2 separate regions of the Homo sapiens genome follow, and region 1 is reported to be linked to region 2. Evidence: microRNA targets listed by miRTarBase, many of them from high-throughput screens and not tested one by one. Region 2 holds a microRNA gene; the other region holds the end of a gene's coding sequence.

Region 1 (3,400 bases), not on the chromosome of region 2:
AGAGAAGGGATCTCATTATGTTGCCCAGGCTGGACTCAAACTCCTGAGCTCAAGTGATCCTCCCACCTCGGCCTCTCAAAGTGTTGGGATAACAGGTGTGAGCCACTGCGCCTGGCCAAGTGTGTTTCAAGTGAGGCACAATGGCAGTAAGCTTGACTAGAAGCATCAATAGGTATGAGATCTGGTGATTAAAACTTAGTTTCGGAGCATAAACCAGGAAAGTTTTACTTAGGTTGTTGACTTCCGGTAGTGGGAGGCATATATTTTTAACAATAATTCCTCCTTCCCTCCAAGAAGAGAAAAACACCGTCTCTCTTGAATTCTGTTTCTTCTCATCTGCATTTTCACCCACCCTAGACAATGCCATCCCCATCAAATCCTGGTTCAGTGACCCCAGCGACACAGCCCTTCTCAACCTGCTCCCAATGCTGGATGCCCTCAGGTAAGGGAAGTGGGCTCTGGACACTTGGATATCTCAAGAAAGGAGGAGGTGGGGGATCCTCAGAGGGAATAAAAAAGGTTTGTCCTGTTTTAACTCTGTTCCCTTAAGAATTTAACATTTGGACCCAGGTCGTCTTACTTCAAAGCTCATCACTTTAGCTAGTAGGCTGTGGGCAAATTGAACCTATCTAATCATGAATATGGTGATAATTTAGGTCCCACATCTCCAGTGATGCTGCCTTACAAGAGTGTTGTGAGGGTATGAACTATAAGGTACTCTACCAATGCAAGTTATTGTCACCCCAGGTTCACCGCTGATGTTCGTTCCGTGCTGAGCCGAAACCTTCACCAACATCGGCTCTGGTGACAGCTGCTCCCCCTCCACCTGAGTTGGGGTGGGGGGGAAAGGGAGGGCGAGCCCTTGGGATGCCGTCTGATGCCCTGTCCAATGTGAGGACTGCCTGGGCAGGGTCTGCCCCTCCCACCCCTCTCTGCCCTGGGAGCCCTACACTCCACTTGGAGTCTGGATGGACACATGGGCCAGGGGCTCTGAAGCAGCCTCACTCTTAACTTCGTGTTCACACTCCATGGAAACCCCAGACTGGGACACAGGCGGAAGCCTAGGAGAGCCGAATCAGTGTTTGTGAAGAGGCAGGACTGGCCAGAGTGACAGACATACGGTGATCCAGGAGGCTCAAAGAGAAGCCAAGTCAGCTTTGTTGTGATTTGATTTTTTTTAAAAAACTCTTGTACAAAACTGATCTAATTCTTCACTCCTGCTCCAAGGGCTGGGCTGTGGGTGGGATACTGGGATTTTGGGCCACTGGATTTTCCCTAAATTTGTCCCCCCTTTACTCTCCCTCTATTTTTCTCTCCTTAGACTCCCTCAGACCTGTAACCAGCTTTGTGTCTTTTTTCCTTTTCTCTCTTTTAAACCATGCATTATAACTTTGAAACCAAAGCGGCCTTAGGTCCTTCTCTGGGGTTTTGGGAAGTGAAGAGAGGGGACTTTGTTCACATGCACCCTGTCCCACAGGCAGAGGGGGAAGAGACTGCTGTTGGACTCAAGGGGCAGGGGGAAAGGTGGCGTTGAGTATAGGGATAGAATAATGCGGACACCAGATGCCTGGGATACAATAATGCTGACACCAGATGCTTTGGCGGGAAGGGCCGAGTGACAGGATGGGCGCGCTGGTGGGGAGTGGAAGGACACCTTCGGAGAAGCAGGCTATGGAAGCACGAAAGGAGAAACCGGCTATGGAAGCACGAAAGGAGAAACCTGGACGGCCAAAGGGCGTAGAGCTGGAGAAACCGGGCTTCGTCCGGGGCACTGACGTGGACAGGTTAAGCGGGCGCTGCCCCCAGGTGGCTGGCGCCCCGACCTCCGCTGTCCGGGAAGGCGTCGGTCCCCCTCCCAGCTGTCGCCCAGCCGGCCCCGCCTCCCCGGCGCCCTCCCAAGCCGGCCCTACTTCGCGCACCCGCCACGTGACGCTCCGCCCTCTTTGAGATCACATGATTTAACTCAAGTCCCGCAGTGTTCCTCCGCGCTGGCGTAGTCCCTACCTTTCCAACCTCCTCTCCAGTCCCTATTGGTCTACTCATTTTGGCACTTAAGCGTTCTGTAGATCTCTCCAAACATCTGTTTTCTTTTTGACTTCTTATTTCTGGAGATCATCTCCGCCACTTGGGTACTACTTTGTTTTGGTGTCAACGGCCGCCTTCAGCGTAGCAACACGGTTCGTGAATAGCTAACCTTGTAATTGTCCCTGCTGTTCCTCTACGTTGTTAACGAAAGGAACTTGGAGAACCAAGTCTCGTATGATGATTACCATCTTTTACTCCTCTTCAGCCCCAGCTTCCTTGAGGGGACGGTTGGGGAATAGGTTTAGAGTAATTTTCGATGAGCAAAAGCCAACCGTCTTTGCTACGTCGCCTGCGTAGCCCACAAATTGATTCCAAAGCGATTACGCTAATGGCGTGAGGGGGCCGGTCAGTTGGTGGTGCTACGCTAGCAGCGTTAGCGCCGCTGAGGTAGTGGCGTATCTTAGCGGGGGGGGCAGTCCCCGATAGTCGGGGGCGGGGTTGGTGAATAGGGAAGTGGCGCAAATTCGTGGATCGCTCCGCTGAATCCGCCCGCGCGTCGCCGCCGTCGTCGCCGCCCCCCGTCCCGGCCCCCCTGGGTTCCCTCAGCCCAGCCCTGTCCAGCCCGGTTCCCGGGAGGATGAAGTTCGTGTACAAAGAAGAGCATCCGTTCGAGAAGCGCCGCTCTGAGGGCGAGAAGATCCGAAAGAAATACCCGGACCGGGTGCCGGTGAGGACAGTAGCCAGGGCCGAGGGCGCGGGACGCTTACGCTGACGCCACAGCCTGGCCTTGGATCGGGACAGGCAGCGCAGGGATCAGGCTGCTGGCTGTGGTGGGGTTGGCAGCGAGCCTGAAACTGCTGTCCTTGGGACCCAGGATGAAAGGAGTGGGGTAGTGGTGGATGTGGGGTTGAGAGGGATGTGGACAGGAGAGAGAAACCTTAGCATTTGAGGCCTTAGAGAGTTTGACAGCCTGAGCTTCAAATGGTCATCCCCCCAGCTAGCTAAGGTTGCGAGATTGAATCACTAGTCGACCCAAACAAGTCACCTCCGTCTGATTAAGATAGTTGTTTATGGTGACGCCCTATTGGGGGATGGATCCTGGATATTTAAATGAGCTCCAGTCAGTGAGGTCAGGATCTCTGGGACTCAGTGCTGCACCGCGTGTACAAAGACAAAGAGATGAATCTGGGGTAGATTTAGGTGCTAGGAATATTGTTTCTTGAGTTCTTGACAGGTGCAGCTTCGGGGCTGCATTCCTTCTGTCTCCTAATTTTCATCTCTTTATCAGGTGATAGTAGAAAAGGCTCCCAAAGCTCGGATAGGAGACCTGGACAAAAAGAAATACCTGGTGCCTTCTGATCTCACAGGTGGGAAC
Region 2 (3,400 bases):
TCAAAGTTAAAATGTTGAAATTATTTCCTAGTAATCTTACTATACTTAGAGTCACAGAGACAGATACACTGAAAAGACGGACAGAAATTACTTTAATGATAAAAGTTAAGCTCATGTTCCATGAAAGAAATGCCATAAGAATGTTTTCTAAATCCTATGCTTAACTTCGGAATAGCGCAATTAGATTGCATTGCATTTTTGAAAGATCACTTGTTAAATACAAAATTTTAAAACATACCACAATATTTGGCACTTCATTTTCTTTATTAAACAAGGAGACTCAGAAAATCATAGTGGCCTGGGCCCATGTGAACCTCTGTGAAAGCCTCCCACAGGGAGAGAGGACTGGGATGCCATGGTCCTAGGTGGGAATGGGGGGAGCAGTGTAGGCCTCGGTGCGGACCCAATGCTGGGGCCCTAAGGCTCTCTCCTCTTTTCTTCCAGGTGGAAAATGAGCTTATATATGAAGAAGTCAGCGAGTGGACAAAGCCAGGCGCAATGGATAGCAAAGATGTGGAAGTCTCCTCGATTCAAGTTACAAGAAAACCGCAGCATGGAGTCTGCTCTCAGCTGTTGGGGAATTACCGATGCCTTTGACTAAGTCAAGACTGACTTTTCCAGAATATCACCCAAGAGATAGAGCCGTCCCTGTCCAAGTTTGTGCGCTAGCCCTTCATGGAGGTCAGAGAGGAAGAAACAAAGGCAGCTGTGGCCTCGGCGGTCACAGTGTCAGAACGCACAAGCCCCATAAAGAGGTTTCACGCAGGCCACCCATCCCTTTTCATTCTCCAGCAGAACAGGACAGAGAGCGTTCTGTTCTGCGGAAGGTCTTCCACTCTACAAGGCAATCCCTCCAGCTGCTTTGCTGTATTGTGCTGTCTCCTGTCACACTATGAATGCAGTGACCTCAGCCAGCAACAGGGAGAACCCCCCTGCCTCCCGAACAAAGGACCTCACGTGAAATCCTGAGCTCAGAGCTTACAGATATGTGTGCGCTTTCACTTTACATCGGCCGTGACTTCCAAACAACTTCAGGAAACTTTAGGATCTCTGAGGTATACTGGAGATGACAGCAGCGTAGAATGTTCATTTGGATTTAGAACAGAAATGCTTATTTTATATTTGGCTGCTCCCAAACTGTCCCCAGACTTCCTCTCCAGTGGTTACCCTCCACTGCCCTGGATGTCCCACGTTTACACTCCACACTCACACCTCCACCTTAACAAAGTCCTCCACTGGGTCAAACCATACATCGCTTCGTCTCTGTAGTGATGACTTCCTGTCCTCTGCTCTGTGGATAAAGACCCCAGATAAAGATGCCTGTGTTGCTCAACTCTTGTAAATACTCTTGAGACATTTTGAAAGCAGAAGGAAAGGAGACAGACGGGGAAAATAAAAGGGATGGTCTGCTTGTGCGGAAACGTTTTGAGAATGCCCTTCCCTAAGAGAGAACAGTAAAAGTGAGCAATACTTCCTGAGCTGTGGGTTCATATGGCTGGACTGTGCTGTTTCTCACGGGAGAAGTTCTCGTCTCCCCTGCGTGTACATCCCTGTTTGCCAGCCTGGCCTTCGGTGTGGTGATATCATGGTGCACTCCCAGGAGGGAAGTGCTTGGTCAAGACTTCTGCTTGGGTTCGACTATCAGTTCTGGTTTCCTTTAAGGCACAGGATCTTCCCTTTAAGGCACAAACACCCCCTTGACACAAAGTAAGGGACAAGGGAACTTTAAACCATTTGGAAACCCAAGCACAATAGGCTGTAGGTTGTAAAAAGAAATTACAAAGGTAATTTTATCCAGAAGAGGGAGCAGTTTAACTTCTGCAGGGTAAGATTCAGATTCACTTTTGTAACTGAACAGGGAATTTTCTAAATATTTTGAAAATGCCGAAACATTTCCTGTTGGCATTTCACAGAAACGTTCAAAGTTCCCTAATGATAGTTTCCGCTGTGCTCACTCCGGAGGCTGCTAAGCAACCTCAGTAATTAGCTCGATTGAGGAAACGAAACTGTGGGGGACTCAGTTTCCATGATAGGGAAACCAGGCAAGAAATATTGTCTCCTCAAGTTGCGACGAGACAGTAGTTCTTGCCTGGTTTCTCTATCATGGAGTCTTGGTTGGACTCTGCTATGCGTCTCTTGATGAAATGTGATACTAGCAATTGAACAATTAAGAAAATGGATGGCGGGGGGTGGAGCGGTTTGTCACTACTGGAGTTGCAGAGGCTCAGTGGGGGAACCTGAGAAACACTGCGTCCCCCAGGTCATCACCGCGTCAGCACTGATGAGTCATGTTGATGGCATGGACCCTGAATATGACACAATGAGATGTCACTTTACCTCTGTGGCCTTTCCCAGAAAAAACCATAACCCCAGTCTAACCATGAGAAAAATATAAGACAATGGTGCAGGCAGGGCATTTCAGGAGAGGGTCAGGTAAAGGGGAGGGGGTCCCAGGAGAGGGTCAGGGGAGGGGACTTCAGGAGAGGGACAGGGAGAGGGGAGGGGGCTCCAGGAGAGGGTCAGGGAAAGGGGAGGGGGTCCCAGGAGAGGGTCAGGGAAAGGGGAGGGGGGTCCCAGGTGAGGGTCAGGGGAGGGGACTTCAGGAGAGGGACAGGGAGAGGGGAGGGGGCTCCAGGAGAGGGTCAGGGAAAGGGGAGGGGACTTCAGGTGAGGGTCAGGGAAAGGCGAGGGGGTCCCAGGACAGGGTCAGGGGAGGGGACTTCAGGAGAGGGACAGGGAGGGGGGAGGGGGGCTCCAGGAGAGGGTCAGGGATAGGGGAGGGGGGTCCCAGGAGAGGATCAGGGGAAGGGGTGGGGCTTCAGGAGAGGGTCTGAGAACACACAGGCAGGCAACACCTTAAAATCCCATCTCAGTCAGCAATGACTCCTCATAGGGCCACCACGAGCTTAAATGTCACTTAAATGTCCCTATTTGCCAGCCTGGACTTCGGTGTGGTGATATCATGGTGCATTCCCAGGAGGGAAGTGCTTGGTCAAGACTTCTGCTTGGGTTCGACTGTCGGTTCTGGTTTCACATGCACTGTGTGAACACGCTTCATACAGAGGGTCAGCACCGCACTGTGTGAACATGCTTCATGCAGAGAGCCTGTACTGCACCAGGTGAACACACTTCATACAGAGAGTCAGCACCGCACCGTGTGAACATGCTTCATACAGAGAGTCAGCACCGCACTGTGTGAACACGCTTCATACAGAGAGTCAGCACCGCACCGTGTGAACACACTTCATACAGAGAGTCAGTACTGCACCGTGTGAACATGCTTCATACAGAAGATCAGCACCTCACTGTGTGAACACACTTCATACAGAAGGTCAGCAATGCACCGTGTGAACACACTTCATACAGAGAGTCAGCACTGCACTGTGTGAACATGCTTCAT

Evidence for each region. The annotated mature microRNA hsa-miR-4645-5p reads ACCAGGCAAGAAAUAUUGU and lies in region 2 at 2,038-2,056, shown strand. An mRNA with a match to its seed (bases 2 to 7 or 8) in the 3' UTR can be bound and repressed. Matches are read on the target gene's strand: a 7mer-m8 pairs with bases 2 to 8, a 7mer-A1 pairs with bases 2 to 7 and ends in A, and an 8mer does both.
Region 1: the mRNA of CTDNEP1 is a reported target of hsa-miR-4645-5p. Seed matches in the 3' UTR shown: 7mer-m8 at 900-906.

The regions. Positions count from the first base shown.
Region 1 is chr17:7,241,593-7,244,992 of GRCh38, reverse strand. It overlaps CTDNEP1 (CTD nuclear envelope phosphatase 1), which reads left to right. Exons shown (of 8, transcript NM_001143775.2): 7 at 358-442; 8 at 748-1,402. The coding sequence ends at 808. GABARAP (GABA type A receptor-associated protein) reads left to right here and starts at 2,544. Exons shown (of 4, transcript NM_007278.2): 1 at 2,544-2,752; 2 at 3,314-3,392. The coding sequence starts at 2,663. RefSeq lists silencers at 1,782-1,891, 2,482-2,671 and enhancers at 2,284-2,835, 2,836-3,387.
Region 2 is chr6:2,852,735-2,856,134 of GRCh38, reverse strand. MIR4645 (microRNA 4645) reads left to right here and starts at 2,028; the gene lies at 2,028-2,104. It also overlaps the pseudogene SERPINB9P1. RefSeq lists enhancers at 742-871, 932-991, 1,568-2,308.